Regions from separate parts of the Homo sapiens genome. Here region 1 is linked to region 2. A link means that fine-mapping ties the variant in region 2 to the expression of a gene that starts in the linked region. Tissue or cell type: fibroblasts. Region 2 holds a variant in brackets; the other region holds the start of a gene. All regions are shown on one strand. Distances are from middle to middle.

Evidence for each region. PIP is the estimated chance that this variant, and not a neighbour inherited with it, causes the effect.
Region 1: ABCB10 starts here. The variant in region 2 is fine-mapped to the expression of ABCB10 in fibroblasts (GTEx, PIP 0.99).

Annotation. Positions count from the first base shown.
Region 1 is chr1:229,554,127-229,562,230 of GRCh38, reverse strand. It overlaps ABCB10 (ATP binding cassette subfamily B member 10), which reads left to right and starts at 3,524. Exons shown (of 13, transcript NM_012089.3): 1 at 3,524-4,095. The coding sequence starts at 3,579. RefSeq lists an enhancer at 2,745-2,934 and silencers at 3,105-3,804, 3,865-4,314.
Region 2 is chr1:230,298,622-230,306,725 of GRCh38, reverse strand. No RefSeq gene overlaps it. Among named protein-coding and RNA genes, the nearest start is that of PGBD5, 120 kb to the left of the region's middle. RefSeq lists a silencer at 325-414. The variant A/T (reference allele first, on the strand shown) is at 3,531.

The DNA.
Region 1 (8,104 bases), 740 kb after region 2:
GCAACCTCCGCCTCCTGGGTTCAAGCCATTCTCCTGCCTCAGCCTCCCCAGTAGCTGGGATTCCAGGCACCCACCACCACACACAGCTAATTTTTGTGTTTTCAGTAGAGATGAAGTGTCACCATGTTGGCCAGGCTGGTCTTGAACTCCTGACCTCAGGTGATCCACCCACCTCAGCCTCCCAAAGTGCTGGGATTACAGGCTTTCTTTTTTTTCTTGATACAGGGTCTCACTCTGTTGCCCAGGCTTGAGTGCAGTGGCCCAATCACAGCTCACTGAAGCTTTGACCTGCCGGGCTCAGGGAATCCTTCCACTTTAGCCTCCCAAGTATCTGGGACTACAGGCACACACCACCACACCCAGCTAATTTTTACATTTTTAGTTTTTGTACAGATGGAGTCTCCCAGTGTTGCACAGGTTGGTCTCAAACTCCTGGCCTCAAATGATCTTCCCACCTTGGCTTCCCAAAGTGTTGGGATTACAGGCGTGAGCCACCACACCTGGCCAAGTTTTGTTTTTTAATCAGCTACACTTGAGTTATTTTTCTATTGACTGGAGGCCTTAGAGAGCAATGGCAGAAAAAGGCAGTGGGATGCCATGCCAGGGAAGGCAGGAAGGGAAGGCCAGTCTGACATTTCCTGGCCCTTGCAGCAGCAGGGGTTTTCTGGAAAGTGGGTAAGAGAAAGATGAAGCTTAGGTCTAGGTTAAAATTGTCACTTTCTCTCCAACTGGGAGAGTGTCGTTCATTGATGTTTCTTCAGCTGGGCTCAAAGAAGAGGTAGCAGGATGCATGATGAGGCATGATCCTACTTCTTTTCAGAAGTCACTGAATAACATATTTGCTAAAAGGAACATGCTTAGTCATAAATATCAGTGGAGCTGATTTCACACTACACCACCAATTCTAGAACTTCTGCACTGATGAGAAACTAGCTTGAATTGTCGTCACCCTGGGGGCAGGAAAGTGGGGGGGCGGGGGTAGGGAGGCGAGACTCCATGTCCTCTGGGTTTAAGAGGTTGGACTTTAGAGGATTACATGCTTACTGCTCATTTCACAGGCACATTTAAGGCCCGACTTAACCCCACACTTTCTATTATCGATCCTTCCCCCACCTCACTCCTTACCTACCAGGACCATATACTTAAGGCACTCTACTAGGGACAAAATTTAAAGATGTGCTAAAAAGTCTCAGTAATCAAATCATGCAAAATTTATTTTAATTGAAAATTTTTAAGTCAGTTTTTATGAGGTGACTTCTGAAAAGAAATGGGATCGTTTTCATTGTGCATCTTGCTACCTCCTCTTTGTGTTTTTTTTGTTTTTATTTTGTTTTGAAAAGATGCAGTCTTGGTGTGTCGCCCAGGCTAGAGTGCATGGAGTGCAGTGACGTGATCTCAGCTCACTGCAACCTCCACCTCCTGGATTCAACCGATTATGCTCCCTCAGCGTCCCAAGTAGCTGAGACTACAGGCATGCACCACCAAGCCCAGCTAATTTTTGTATTTTCAGTAGGGATGGAGTTTCACCATGTTGGCCAGGCTGGTCTCAAACTCCAGACCTGGAGTGATCCGCCCGCCTCGGCCTCCTAGAATGTTGGGATTACAGGTGTGAGCCACCGCCTGGCCGCTACCTCCTCTTTTTTTTTCTTTTCTTTTTTTTTTTTGAGACGGAGTCTTGCTCTGTCTCCCAGGCTGGAGTGCGGTGTGGCACCATCTCAGCTCACTGCAACCTCCGCCTCCCGGGTTCAAGCAATTCTCCTGCCTCAGCCTCCTGCGTAGCTGGGATTACAGGCACGCTCCACCACACCTGGCTAATTTTTGTATTTTTAGTAGGGACGGGGTTTCACCACGTCGGTCAGGCTGGTCTCGAACTCCTGACCTCGTGATTCGCCCGCCTCAGCCTCCCAAAATGTTGGGATTACAGGTGTGAGCCACCGCGCCCGGCCGCTACCTCCTTTTTGAGCCCAACTAAAGAAACATCAAGGATTGATACCCTCCCAGTTGAAGAGAAAGTGACAACTTTAACCCAAATCTCACCTTCCTCTTACTTTCTCTTTCCCATTTTCCAGCTGCCAAACTAAGGGCAGCTGCTGTCAGTTTTTGTAAATAAAGTTTCCAGGGCTGGGATTAGAGCGAGAGAAGAGAGGCAGGATTGTGAAAGGTCAGGAGTGGATACTCAATCAAAATTTTTTATATTTTGTTCATTACGGATTTTTTAAATTAATTTTGATTTTTAAAAATATTGCACTAAAATGTTTATGTTGATTATTGAGGTTTTTTTATTTTGTGAACCCATAAAATTTGCAACTGACAGTACCCTGTCCAGGTCCAGTAAAAATACCTAGGAGTCTACAAAAATCTACCCACGACTCACTGGACCTCAGGTACATATCCCCCCCCGCCCCCATGAAGTCTCCATAAAGTGTCCCAGTGAGTTTTAATGTTCTCTCCTGTCTTTCCATGCACGTGTATTAAGATGCATTGCCTTCTGATTAGTGTTTTCCACTTCGAACAGCGGGAATGCCTCGACCACGCCTGTCTTCAAATTTCTGCTCTAGTTAAGAAACGATCTCAGGCCGGGCACGGTGGCTCACGCCTGCAATCCCAGCACTTTGGGAGGCTGACGCGGGCGGATCACCTGAGGTCAGGAGTTCGAAAAGAGCCTGACCAACATGGTAAAACCCCGTCTCTACTAAAAATACAAAATCAGCCGGGTGTGGTGGCGTATGCCTGTAATCCCAGCTACTTGGGAGGCTGAGAAGGGAGAATCACTTGAACCTGGGAGGCAGAGGTTGCAGTGAGCCGAGATCGTCTCAAGAAAAAAAAAAAAAAGAAAAAAAAGAAACGATCTCTTCCCTTCTCAAAGTTATATACATTTCACTATTCGCCAACCACCTCCTCCACGCCGTCCAGAGCTGAGCTGACACGCAGCGAAGTCCTCTCAGTGGTCCCTCCGCACCTCAGCCCTGTGCTTGGCAGCGAGACGAGTGACAGGGCCGCCCCAGCATGGGTCTCCCGGGCCGCGGACCCGCCCCACGCCGTATCCAGCACGCTGTCCTCCCGCCCCATCTTTGTGCCGGCCATCGTGTGGTCGCGTCTGCGCGCTCCGCCCGGTCTGCCGGCGTGAGAAAGAGCTCGTGTCGTTCCCAAGTTCAGACCAGAGGGGACGGCGAAGCGCGAAAAAGTTCCCTGCGCCCAGTACGCAGGCGCAGCCGTGCTCCTGGGCTTCCCGGGCCTCGTCCCAGCTGGCGCGCCCGGCGCTCCTCCGCCAGCGGGCAGTTGGGGGCGCTGCAGGGAGGGCACCCGAGCGGGTTGGGGGCGCTCGGAAGGGTGGCTTGCAAGGTCCGGGTAGCTGCAGTCCCCGGAGTGGGGCGGAGAGGCGCGGCACCGCGCGGACGAGGATGGGGCGGGGGCGGGCGCAGCCCGAGGGTGCAGGCACGATAAGGCGGGTGACAGCCAGCGGGGAGGGGCGGGCGCCACCGCGTCCACGCCCTTTGCTCGGGGCCGGGCCGGGAGGGTCCTCGGGCTTTGCGCGCGCCTGGCCGGCGGGCTGAGGCGTACGGGTCGCACGCAGCGCCATGCGAGGCCCCCCTGCCTGGCCGCTGCGGCTGCTCGAGCCACCGAGCCCTGCCGAGCCAGGTCGGCTCCTGCCGGTAGCCTGCGTGTGGGCCGCGGCCAGCCGCGTTCCCGGGTCCCTATCGCCGTTCACTGGCCTGAGGCCGGCGCGGCTATGGGGCGCGGGGCCCGCGCTGCTCTGGGGCGTTGGAGCCGCGCGCCGCTGGAGGAGCGGCTGCCGGGGCGGGGGTCCGGGCGCCTCGCGGGGCGTCCTGGGCCTCGCGCGGCTCCTGGGGCTGTGGGCTCGCGGCCCCGGCAGCTGCAGGTGCGGGGCTTTTGCCGGGCCAGGCGCTCCTCGGCTCCCGCGCGCCCGGTTCCCGGGCGGTCCCGCAGCCGCTGCCTGGGCAGGGGACGAGGCCTGGCGGCGCGGGCCGGCGGCGCCTCCCGGGGACAAGGGGCGGCTGCGCCCCGCAGCGGCCGGACTCCCGGAGGCCCGGAAGCTCCTGGGGCTGGCGTACCCTGAGCGCCGGAGGCTGGCAGGTAGGGTCCTCCCCGGCCACTTCCCTCCGCCGGGCCTCTCCTTCTCCACACGCGGGGTCCCGGGGCGCCGAGAGGGACACGGCCGGGCCGCAGAGCGCGTGTCACCGCCGCCTCTCCTGGGCCACTCCTAACCCCGGAGGAGGGAGGGGATCGCTCACCTCAGAGTAGCGTTGTCAAGATTTCGCCTTAGCTGGGGACTCGTTTGCAGATTTTACACTTGTTTTCTTGTTGACACACGTTATATATGTCATTATTGGAATCTTTGGGTCTGTTCCACCACCAACTTAGTGGGAGCATCTGTTTTGGCTTAGGCAGCAAAATGAGCTGGAGGTTTTTCCTTGGAAAAAAAAATTCTAGCCAAAAATATGCCTATTTTGTTATTAGGCGTTTATACTTTTTTTTTTTAACCAAAAACACATTATTTGCTTCAAGCGAGTCTGTCAAGCAGTCACCAATGCTTTCACAGCGGAAAGCAAAACTTTCAGACTTGTCTCTTGTGCAGGAAGTTACAGCACTGTGTTCAACAGGCCACACCAGTGATCTGTTCAGTAATTGAGTAACTTTTTTAAAAGAAGCCAAAATGAATGTTTTTAGAAACAAAATTTAAATAGGACAGTTTTCTATAGCTCCTCATTTTTTAGCCATAATTGGAGGAGTGTTTAGATGCAAGGGCCTTGTAAGATCTAAAATTTTTTCGATTTCTCTAAATCTTCACTCCTTCTATAAACATCTGTTGAGCCCTCATTCTGGACTGGGCCCTGGGTTTACAGTGGCATGCACAAGGAAACATGGTCCTCACTTCTGCTGGGGCTTCTAGGTTAGTGGGGAGAAGCATCTATGAAATATTCGTATGTATAGAGGTAAACCTGCACCTGTGGGCTGTGGAAGGGGGCCTGTGGGGCCTGTGAGGTTGTCAGGTGCAACACCAGAAAAGCATTCTTTGCTGCAAATCCATTGCTTTAGAAAGGACCCTCCTGGGTAGTGATTTGGGATTTAGAGTAGGTTTGCACAGTGGAGGAGAGCAGTTAGGGTGGCGACTTTTCATCTACCAGTTGCTATGAAAGCTTAGGGGGCTGTTGATATCACTCGGGTGTAAAGAGAATTATTTCATTGTTCAGTTGGTTGAGTGTAGATTTTGTTGTAAAATATCTTTTTCTCTTTCCTCTTTTTAAAAACATTGGAGACTAGGAGCTCTCACTGGACTTTGAGCTGCTTGAGACGGGGACTGTGCGATTCATCTTTCTGTCTCTAGTTCTTAGCATGTGCACGGCACAGAGCAGGCGCTCAGAGTGCCTTCAGTGAAGGAATAAATGACCATACCACCAGGCACAGAGTGAGGCCTTTAGAAACCCTGAGCATCATCGGGTGCGCCCACCACTTCTGTATGTGACTCAAAGTAAGTGTAAGGAAATCCAGTTCTGTTTTGTTTCTGAAATACTAGATGTCAGGAAGGGTGTTTAGGTGTCAGGCTTTGGTGGCCTACACGTGCCCAGTCCTCTTATGCCATGACCATTGTTCCTGTGACCCCTCACTCTGTCCCCAGATATCCTGCCATGCTAGTATGTTTTGGTGACAGCCTTAAACAAGACGAGACTGCCTCCTTTTTTCTTTCTTCTTTTGTTTTTCTGGGATAGGGGTCTCACTGTGTTGCTGAGACTTGTGTTGAACTCCTCAGCTCAAGCAGCTCTGCCTCTACCTCCTGAGTAGTTGGGACTACAGGCATGTGCCACCACACCCAGCTCGTACCTTTTTTTTTTTTTTTTGAGATGGAGTTTTGCTCTTGTTGCCCAGGCTGGAGTGCAATGGCGTGATCTCACCTCACCGCAACCTCCGCCTCCCGGGTTCAAGCGATCTTCCTGCCTCAGCCTCCCAAGTAGCTGGGATTACAGGCATGTGCCATCATACCCGGCTAATTTTGTATTTTTGGAGACAGAGTTTCTCCATGTTGGTCAGGGTGGTCTCGAACTCCCGACCTCGGGTGATCTGCCCACCTTGGCCTTCCAAAGGTGCTGGGATTACAGGTGTGAGCCACTGCACCCGGCCTTCTTTTTATTTTAAGAACAGAATATATTTTGTTCCACCACATTGAGAAATTATGAATATATAATTTGAAGAAACAAGCCTAGGGTTGGCACACTATTTTTTTTTTTTTTTTTGCTTTTCAAACAGATAAATACATATTGTATGTTATGAGGATAAGGATATCTGATAAAAAGCCCTTATTTAGATGTATGATTTCCTGAGAAGTTATTATATATTAAAGCCAGTTAGGATTAAGAGGAAGTGGTGGTCATTGTTAATTTGTAATTAAAAAAAAATGTGTAATTTATCATTCTAAGAGCAGCCTGAGGTGTTGGCACATCTCTTTGAAATGCTGGAGGTAAAGAGCAATTGCGTGTGTGTATTTTCTAATCAAAACACTAAAAAAGCTGAGCTGAAAAGGAATTCCAATGTTAATTTGTTAATTTTTAGAAAAATACAAAAATCTTTTTTCAAAAATGCAGCTTTATATTTTAATAATAATACCTCCATCTGTCTCAGCATTTTGCTGGGTATGCCTCCTAAACTGTGTGAACAGAAAACTTTGATTGCATCAGAAACTTTAAAAACACAGTCTACCATGAAATATGTACAGACGTGTGCTGAAAGCAGCTTTAGCATAACTGTGTTACATTCCTCTTCTAAAGGAAGGCCTAAGCCGCCCCTTTGGGGAGGAATTCGCAGCTGTCTTCATACAGATGTAAGGTCCCTTTTCACTGATAATTCTCCATCGTATCACTTTGGCCAGAAGGACTCTTAAAAGATGCAGGTGCTTGAGGAGGAGCAGGGTGTGGATTGATGGGATAAGCGACACTTCATCAGAACCGTCTGGCTGTGCCTGGCAGATAGATGAGGCTCTGACCTGAGTGAGTTAGGGGCAGGGTTTTAGGAGCAAATGTGGGCCCCTACAGTACTGTGAGATTAGGGCAAAGCTGCCTCCTGGAGGTTTTTTGTGTGGGGGGCTTCGGCGGGGTGGGCAGCATGCCTTCATTAAACTGTGGACTGCACACATGTATCCCCTCCGCTGGGGCATGTTCAGTTGGTGCCTGTGTGGAGGACTCAGGAGGGCTCCTCTCACTGCAGTTACTGATAAGGGGCTGGTGTGTGGTTTGAGGGCAGGACTGCTCTGAGAACCTGAAGCCTGCTGGCAGCTTTTGCTGAGTTTGTAGTTGCATTTTATGAAGATGGGCCGTGAGTGACCACAGTGAATATAGTGACAAAAGCAGTGGGTATGGTGGGCAAGGAGGCCAGAGTAGCTACTTCCTGAAGCCCAGTGAGGATGGAGATCCCGCAGGGACAGTGCCCTGTGGGGGCTGGGATGGATGAACCTTTGAAATCGGAACTGCCCCCGAAAGCCAGGGATGTGCGTGTGCTACAGAAATACATTGTTTCAGCGAAACTGAGCATTCTGTAGCTGTGCTGTCACATCAGATTCCAGAAGGACAGTAGAGAAAAAATGTAAAATATCTTACTAATTTTTTATGTTGATCATGTGTGGATAATATTTTGGATATATTGGGTCAAGTAAAATGTTATTAAAATTAATTTTACGTATTCCTTTTTATAATGTGGCAACTAGAGAAGTTTAAATTACCTAGGTGGCTCCCATCGTATGTCTGTTAGAGTCCATGGCGAACCCTCCTGTGGTTCATGGGACAGGTACCCCTAACTGTTTTATTTTAATTTTGTCTTTGGGATACTCCTAACTCTAGAGCATGCTAATAGCATGGACAGAGACAGTCTGATCTTGCACCAGACACATGGGGGCTCAGATCTTTCTTCTCCAGATTTCCAGAACCTGGAGTCCCTGGCTTCTTCCTCTACTCCCTTCTCATCTGTCAGCCGCTCATGTCCTCACTCATTCTCTACCCAGCGCAGATGCCGAGTCTCTTCACTCAGCCTCCATCTCCCCCACACCCTCAACTCCTGTGTTCTCCATCACACCCACCTGCATCCGTGGAAATGTGTC
Region 2 (8,104 bases):
ACCATCCTGGCTAACATGGCGAAACCCCATCTCTACTAAAAATACAAAAAATTAGCCGGGCATGGTGGCAGGCGCCTGTAGTCCCAGCTACTGGGGAGGCTGAGGCAGGAGAATGGTGTAAACCTGGGAGGCAGAGCTTGCAGTGAGCGAGATCATGCCACTGCACTCCAGCCTGGGTGACAGAGCAAGACTCCATCTCAAAAAAAAAAAAAAAAAAATAGCAAAAGATACTTGGACATGTCATCATAAGAAATTCTCGTTAGTATTCATGCTTTTCATAAAATGATGAAATTGACCTTCACATGTCTTCCTTCCCTCCTCCACCCCCACCACGAGAGGGCATTGACTTCCGCCCTCTGAGTCTAGGAGAGGTAAGCACTGTGCATCAATTTAGTTTTACTTTCAGAGCTTGGTACAGTTTGGATATTTGTCACCTCCAAATCTCATGTTGAAATGTGATCCCCAGTGTTGGAGGTGGGGTCTAATGAGAGGTGCTTGGATCATGGGGTGGATCCCTTATGAATGGCTTGGTGCCATCCCCATCGCAATAAATGAGCTCTCATTCTGTTAGTTACCTTTAGGTTTGGTTGTTTAAAAAGAGCCTGAAGCCAGGTACGGTGGCTCATGCCTGTAATCCCAGCACTTTGGGAGACTGAGGCAGGAGGATCACTTGAGGTCAGGAGTTCAAGACCAGCCTGGTCAACATCATGAAACCCCATCTCTACTAAAAATACAAAAATTAGCTGGGCTTGGTGGCAGGTGCCTGTGATCCCAGCTACTCAAGAGACTGAGGCACAAGAATCGCTTGAACCCAGGAGGCAGAGGTTGCAGTGAGCCAAGATTGCACCACTGCACTCCAGCCTGGGTGACTGAGCGAGACTCTGTCTCAAAAAACAAGAGCTTGGGGCCAGGCTTGGCAGCTCATGCCTGCAATCCCAGCACTTTGGGAGACCCAGCCAGGTGGATCACTTGAGGTCAAGAGTTCAAGACCAGCCTGGCCAACATGGTGAAACCCTATCTCTACTAAAAATACAAAAATAAGCTGGGCTTCTTGGTGGGTGCCTGTGATCCCAGCTACTTGGGATGCCAAGACCTGAGAATCTCTTAAACCTGGGAGGCGGACAGGGGTTGCACTGGACCAAGTTCACGCCACTGCACCCCAGCCTGGGTGAAAGAGTGAGACTCCATTTCAAAAACAAGTAAATAAAATAAAGAGAGACTGGCATGTCCTCCCCTTTCTCTCTTGCTCCCTTTCTCTTGCCATATGACATGACAGCTCCCCTTCCCCTCCCACCATGATTGGAAGCTCCCTGAGACCCTCAGCAGAAGCAGATGCTGGTGCCATGCTTCTCTGCAGCCTGCAGAACTGTGAGCCAAATAAACCTCTTTTACTGATAAATTACCCAGTGTCCGATATTCCTTTATAGCAATACAAAATAAATTTATTCAGAGCTCTTTCTAGGCCTTTTTACATACATGCAGCCTTTTTCTTTTTTAAAAACATTAATTGGATCAGATTATACATATTTGTCACTTTTTCTCTTATCATTGATCTTTATTTACATGTGTCTACGCTATTTTTAAATGATGTAATATATGCCATAGTATATATGTACAAAGATAACAAAATTATTCCCCCATTGATAAGCTTTTAGAATGTCTGGCTTTTTTTTTTTTTTTTTTTTTTTAGATGGAGTCTCTCTCTGTCTCCAGGCTGGAGTGCAGTGGCACAATCTCAGCTCACTGCAACCTCCGCCTCCCGGGTTCAAGTGACTCCGTCCCTTCCTCTTGGTGTATAGATATATGACATTTAATCACACTTGTAGACTCCAGTAATCACCACCTCAGTCAGGACGTGAAACTGTCCTATCTCCCCAAAGAAACTCCCTTATGCTACTCCTTAATAGCCTGGCCCAATATGTTCTTCTTTCTTTTTTTTATTAAGATATAAACATGCATGATAAATTATGTAAATTGTACTATCAAACATATAAACTGTAAAATAAAAAATAGCTTAAAAATTCACTTTTACATAATAGCTTTATTGAGATATGATTTAGGAACCAAAAAGCCTACCCATTTGAAGCGTAAGGTTCAGTGGTTTTTAGTATATTTATGAGGTTGTGTAATCATCACCATAATCTAATCTTAGAACATCTTTTTTATTCCCCAAATAATCCCCGTCAACAGCCACTCCTCACCCCTCATTCCCTCGCCCTCTAACCCTTGGGAACAGCTCATCCACTTTCTGTCCCTGCGGATTTGCTTATCCTGGACATTTCATATACGTGATATTGTATAACATGTGGCCTTTCGTGGCTGGCTACTTTTGCTTAGATTCTTCCATGCTGTGGCGTGCATCAGTACTTCAATCTTGTGGCTGAATAATATTCCCAGGTAGGCATACATCACATTTTATTTATCCACCCATCATCAGTTGATAAACATTTGGTTGATTTTCACATTTTGGCTATCACAAATAGTGCTGCTATGGGATTTGTGTACAAGTTTTTGTGTGGATTTAATATATTTTCATTTCTCTTGGGAGACGGCCAGGGAGTGGAATCTCTGGGTCATGTGGTGACTCCACAGCTAATCTTTTGAGGAACTGCCAGATTGTTTTCCAAAGCGGATGCACCGTTTCACAATCTCACCAGCAATGAATGAGGGTTCCAATTGCTCCTCATCTTCGCCAACAGTTGTTATTGTCCCTTTGATTCTGAGTGGGTATGAAGTGGTGTCTCACTGTGGTTTCAATTTGCGCCTCTCTGATGACTAATGATGTCAAGCATCTTTTCATGTGAGATCTCTTTTCAAAAACTCACTTTAAGCCTGGTGCAGGGTGCATCCCTGTAGTCTGAGCTACTCGGGAAGATCACTTGAGCCCAGGAGTTCAAGGCCAGCCCGGGCTACATAGCAAGACCCCACCTGAAACAAACAAACCTTACTTTAACTCTTAGGTGGAGAAAGTATGGAACAGAGGCAAGTGTGGCTGCAGAAAAGCCAACCTGCCCCCACCAGGCATGAGAAGGCCAGTGCCGGGTCTGGACTCACTGAGGAAGAGAGGGGGAAACTCATAAATTAGGATCTATTTTGTAGGAAAGAGTTAAGAAAGGGCAATTCCCAGGCCTTGGGGAGTCTGTGCAGGCTGGGGTCAGAAGCTGAGTCCCTCACTTCCAGAGTGGCACAGTGTCCTTTACTCTTATTTAAGTCACTTCGTCTTGCCTTGTCACTTAGAGCACCACCGAGGGCTTTTAGAAGAGTTCCTTAGTGTCAAAGATTCGAACCTGCCATGAGGAGAGGACTTGGACTAATTCGATGTACAGTTTAGTGGTCAGAATTAGAGGCAGATTTGGGCTCCATACAAGGAAATTTTGTCTAATGGTCTGAACAATCTGCAATGAGCTTTACCACTCCAGCAGCTGTGAATCTGTCCACCAGATGGTGAGCTGTCCGTGTGTTTTCGAGGGGCTGCCCTCAAAGGAAGTGATGGCCAACTTGATGGATGGTGAGGTCTACTGTGACCCCAG[A/T]CTCACCATCCTTAGGATGAAAGTTGAGACTAGATACTGTATTAAGACACCCGGGTGCTTTCATATGGTGCTACAGTATCTGGACCCGTTAATGATTACTGATTGGGAGACAGTGGGTCCTCAACACAGTTCTGGGTACTCTGGGGTTGCAGAGAAGCTTAAGGATAACAACAGCTGACATCGTTTTAATGCCACTTTTTAAGAACCACACATTCTACTAAAGGCTTTAACACACATTAATTTAGGATTAAAAATATTTAATCCTAACAACAACGCTTTGAGGTAGGCACTCTTATTATCACTAATTGGCAGATGGAAAACTGAAGCACAGAGAGGTTAAGTAACTTGCTCAAAAACACATAGCTCGTAAGTGATCAAGCCAGGATGTGAATTCAAGCAGCCTGATTCCATGGCCCATACTTTTAGTTATTATACCACATGGCTAAGATGTGGCTGCAGGTAGATTTTAGCCAACCTGGAAAAACCTGCTTTCATTCTATGGAACCACTTAGAAAATACACAAGGCAACGTGAAATTCAGAGGTCATTGTTGTCACTTCTTAAAAGTGCAATTTGAATTGAGAGAGCACAGAGCTCAAAGTATGGCCCCCCCTGAGTTGATTTGTAGGAGGAGTGAGTAAAGAAGGCCGGATCTAGAGGAGGGGCTGTCTCAGGTGCATCCCAACTGGGAAGAAGCTTCCATAAAGAAGTGGGGAAACTGGAAGGGCCTTGCTGAGGTCTCCAATCAGCTTTAAAGATTTGAACCTGCCATGAGAAGAAGACTGAACTAATTCAATATAGCTCAGGGGTCAGAATTAGAGGCAAATTTGGGCTCCATACAAGAGAATTTTTTCTAATCGTCTGAACAATCTGCAATGGGTTTTACCACTCTAGCAGCTGTGAATCCATTCTGTGAATCGCAGAGCTCTAGAGAAGGTTCTAAAAGGAAACTCGAGAGACAGCCGGCAATTCCAGCATGCTGCGGTGCTGGAGGTGGACACTTCAGGCACTTTTTACTCAGAGACCTTGTAGAGAGAGAGGGCTCTGTGACCTTCCCGCCACTCTACTGTACAGAGCTCCTGTCTAACAAGGAGCCAGAGATCCATGTGCTGACATCGCGGATGGGCTGCCCTGCCCACTGGAGCCCAGCCCTCAGTGCTCTCAAAGACACAGGGACACCTGGCTCATTTAGAGGCTTCCAGGCTGGGCGTGGTGACTCATGCCTGTAATCCCAGCACTTTGGGAGGCTGAGGCAGGCAGATCACTTGAGGTCAGGAGTTCAAGACCAGCCTGCCAACATGGTGAAACCCTGGCCTCTACCAAAAATACAAAAGGGTGTGGTGGCGGGTGCCTGTAATCTCAGCTACTCAGGAGACAGAGGCAGGAGAATCGCTTGAACCCAGGAGGCAGAGGTTGCATTGAGCAGAGATCGCACCATTGCACTCCAGCCTGGGTGACAGAGCGAGACTCTATCTCAAAAAAAAAAAAAAAAAAAGGCTTTGAGTTAGACTCCAGAGGGAAAGCAGCCCCAAAGCCCACAGGGTGGCATGCCTGGCTGAGGACCAACTGACCTGTGGAGACGCCAAGGCCAGCCTTGCCGACCCTGTCTCACCTTGCTTGAACTGTGGTTCTCAAGCCCTGCAGGTGGTCAGGCCCTTGGAGTCCACAGCACTTGTTAGAGAACACCAGGCACTGTTGACAGGCCACTGGAAATACCATAAATGTCTATGCGACTGCAGACACAGCCACACCGAGTCCAGCATGGCCAGGTGGCTGCCGATGCTAAACACGGACATGCTCGTGGGAGCGGAAACTCCATGCAGAGGAAGGCCCAGCTGTTATTTCTTCTATATTATTTTTTTCAGACTGGGAAAATAAAGCCATTATTCTATCACCCCCCTCACCCGTGGAAGTTCAGAGTTCAAGGGAGGGGACTAGAGAGCAAAGGCCTCCAGAGAGCAGGCGAGGGGCTGCCAGGGCCACTGAGCCTCTGCAGGGTGCTCAGCCACCACGTCCGGACAGAGCTTGGCCCCTCTCGTCAGGCTTCCTGGGTGTGCCTCAGTGATTCCTCCCTGCCCTGCCCCACTCACACCTGTCAGCAGCCTGGTGGTGAAGGGGAAGCTTTCTCTGCTTAGCGGGCCGGGCTGTCTTTATGCCCAGCCGGACGCATCCTTGCTAGGCATTGAGTTGACAGTGCAGCCGCCCCGGAAAAGCTGGGGTCTCGTGCGCTGCGGTACGGGCATCTTCCAGCAAGAAGGGTGAGGAGGTCCCCAAGGTCTTTCCAGCACCCCTGGGAGAGACGGGAGTCTGTGAATAAAGCCTTGGGCGCAGCTGAACGAAGGACTTTTTCTCTCAGCACAACTAATGTGAGAACACTGTCACCTGCTTCCATCTCTGGGGAATGCATTTTCTGAACAGGTGCTGGCCCCGGCCCTCCCCTCCACACCACCTCTGCTTCAAATGGGAAATCTAAACCTCTCAAGGCCCAGAGGCTGTTTGTTTCTCTCTTATTTCTAAGGCATCCACCCATGAGTGCTAGAGAAACCTACCTTTCCTGCTGTTGGAGCCTTCTAGGACCTCCCTGTCTCAAAAACTATGACCAGCACCGTGCTCATGATCAGCGGGCTGGTGCGCAGTGGTGGGGATGGCCTTAAACCCCGACTGCCCAGGTAACACCCTCATTTCAGTAATGGCCCATCATGATGGCAAGCCTTAATGGGAGGTGTGGTGGGCAGAACGAGGAGCCCCGACCCCGAAACAAAGAGGCTCACCTCCTAATCCCCAGGACCTAAGCCTATGTTACTTTTCACAGCAAACAGGAATTCAGGTAGCAGAGGAGTTCAGGTTGCAATCAGCTGTCTGTGAGGCAGGGAGAGGACCCTGGAATATCCTGTGGGTGCAGTGTCATCACAAGGGTCCTTGTGAGTGAGAACCTTTCCCAGCTGTGTTTACAGCGGAGACACGGCTGTGAAGAACGCAGGAGGTGCAACGTTGCTGGCTTTGATGATGGATGGGGGGATGTAAGCCAAGGGGCATGGACACCTCTAAAAGCTGGGCACAGTGTGAAGTGGAATCCTCCCTCAGAGCCTCCAGAAAGGACTGCAGCCCTACAGACACCTTTACTTTCGCCCAGGGAGGCCGTGTCAGACTTCTGACCTCCAGAGCTGTAAGGTACTACATTTGTGTTGTTGCAGCCACCAAGTTGGAGGTCATTTGTTACAGCAGCAACAAGAAATCAATATGGAGGTGATTTCAGGCCCCGGAGGGATTCTGAGGGCAGTGGGCACATTCAGGAGTTTCAAGTCAATACAGTGGTGACAGGTGCCCAGCACCTTACTTCCTCGGGGCGAATTTGCCGAAGAGCGGAGAGAGCAGGTTTCAATGCAAAGAGGAAGAACCAGGAAACAGTCACATCAGAGCATCTGCTTTTGTCCTTGCCAAATGCACAGGCACAGATCAGCTTGGAGAACTCCCTTTTGTGTTTCTGGTTCAAGGAACGGAGCCCTCATTTCTCCCTGTGCTCGTGAGGAACAGGAAGTCAAATGAAAGTTTAAAAGGATGACGCGGCTGGAAAAATCATTGTAATCGTGAGTACTGTCTCAGGGGCAGCCTTTAGACTTTGCCCAGTTTATCTGTCACCAAACAAAGGATCATAACAGGGACAGGTCCATTGTGATCTGTCTGCTGGGAAGAGCCTCACAGCCAGGGTGGAGACACAGAAAGAAAGGACAGTTGGGATGCACATGGAAGGCAGACCCTCCCTCTGGGTGAACGGCCTGGCACAGGGCCACTGTAGGAAGATCTGGCACCTCTGGGCCCTTTTTCTGCCTCTTCCCTCCCTCAGGCTGACCCTGCATTTAAAGGAGTGGAGGCAGGGCCTGGTTGTCAAACTGACAGGCCACATACCCAGAGGGAGGAAGTCGCTCTCCAGTGGAGAGACGATCTCTGGCCGTGGAGTCAGTACTTGTGAATTTCCACCAAGCTCTGTTATTGACGATGATCTTGAGCAATCGTGGGTTCCCCTTGAGCCCTGGGTTCTTTATCTTTTTTTTTTTAATTATTATTATACTTTAAGTTTTAGGGTACATGTGCACAATGTGCAGGTTAGTTACATATGTATACATGTGCCATGCTGGGGTGCTGCACCCATTAACTCGTCATTTAGCATTAGGTATATCTCCTAATGCTATCCCTCCCCGCTCCCCCCACCCCACAACAGTCCCCAGAGTGTGATGTTCCCCTTCCTGTGTCCATGTGTTCTCACTGTTCAATTCCCACCTATGAGTGAGAACATGTGGTGTTTGGTTTTTTGTCCTTGAGATAGTTTACTGAGAATGTTGATTTCCAATTTCATCCATGTCCCTACAAAGGACGTGAACTCATCGTTTTTTATGGCTGCATAGTATTCCATGGTGTATATGTGCAACATTTTCTTAATCCAGTCTATCATTGTTGGACATTTGGGTTGGTTCCAAGTCTTTGCTATTGTGAGTAGTGCCGCAATAAACATACGTGTGCATGTGTCTTTATAGCAGCATGATTTATAGTCCTTTGGATATATACCCAGTAATGGGA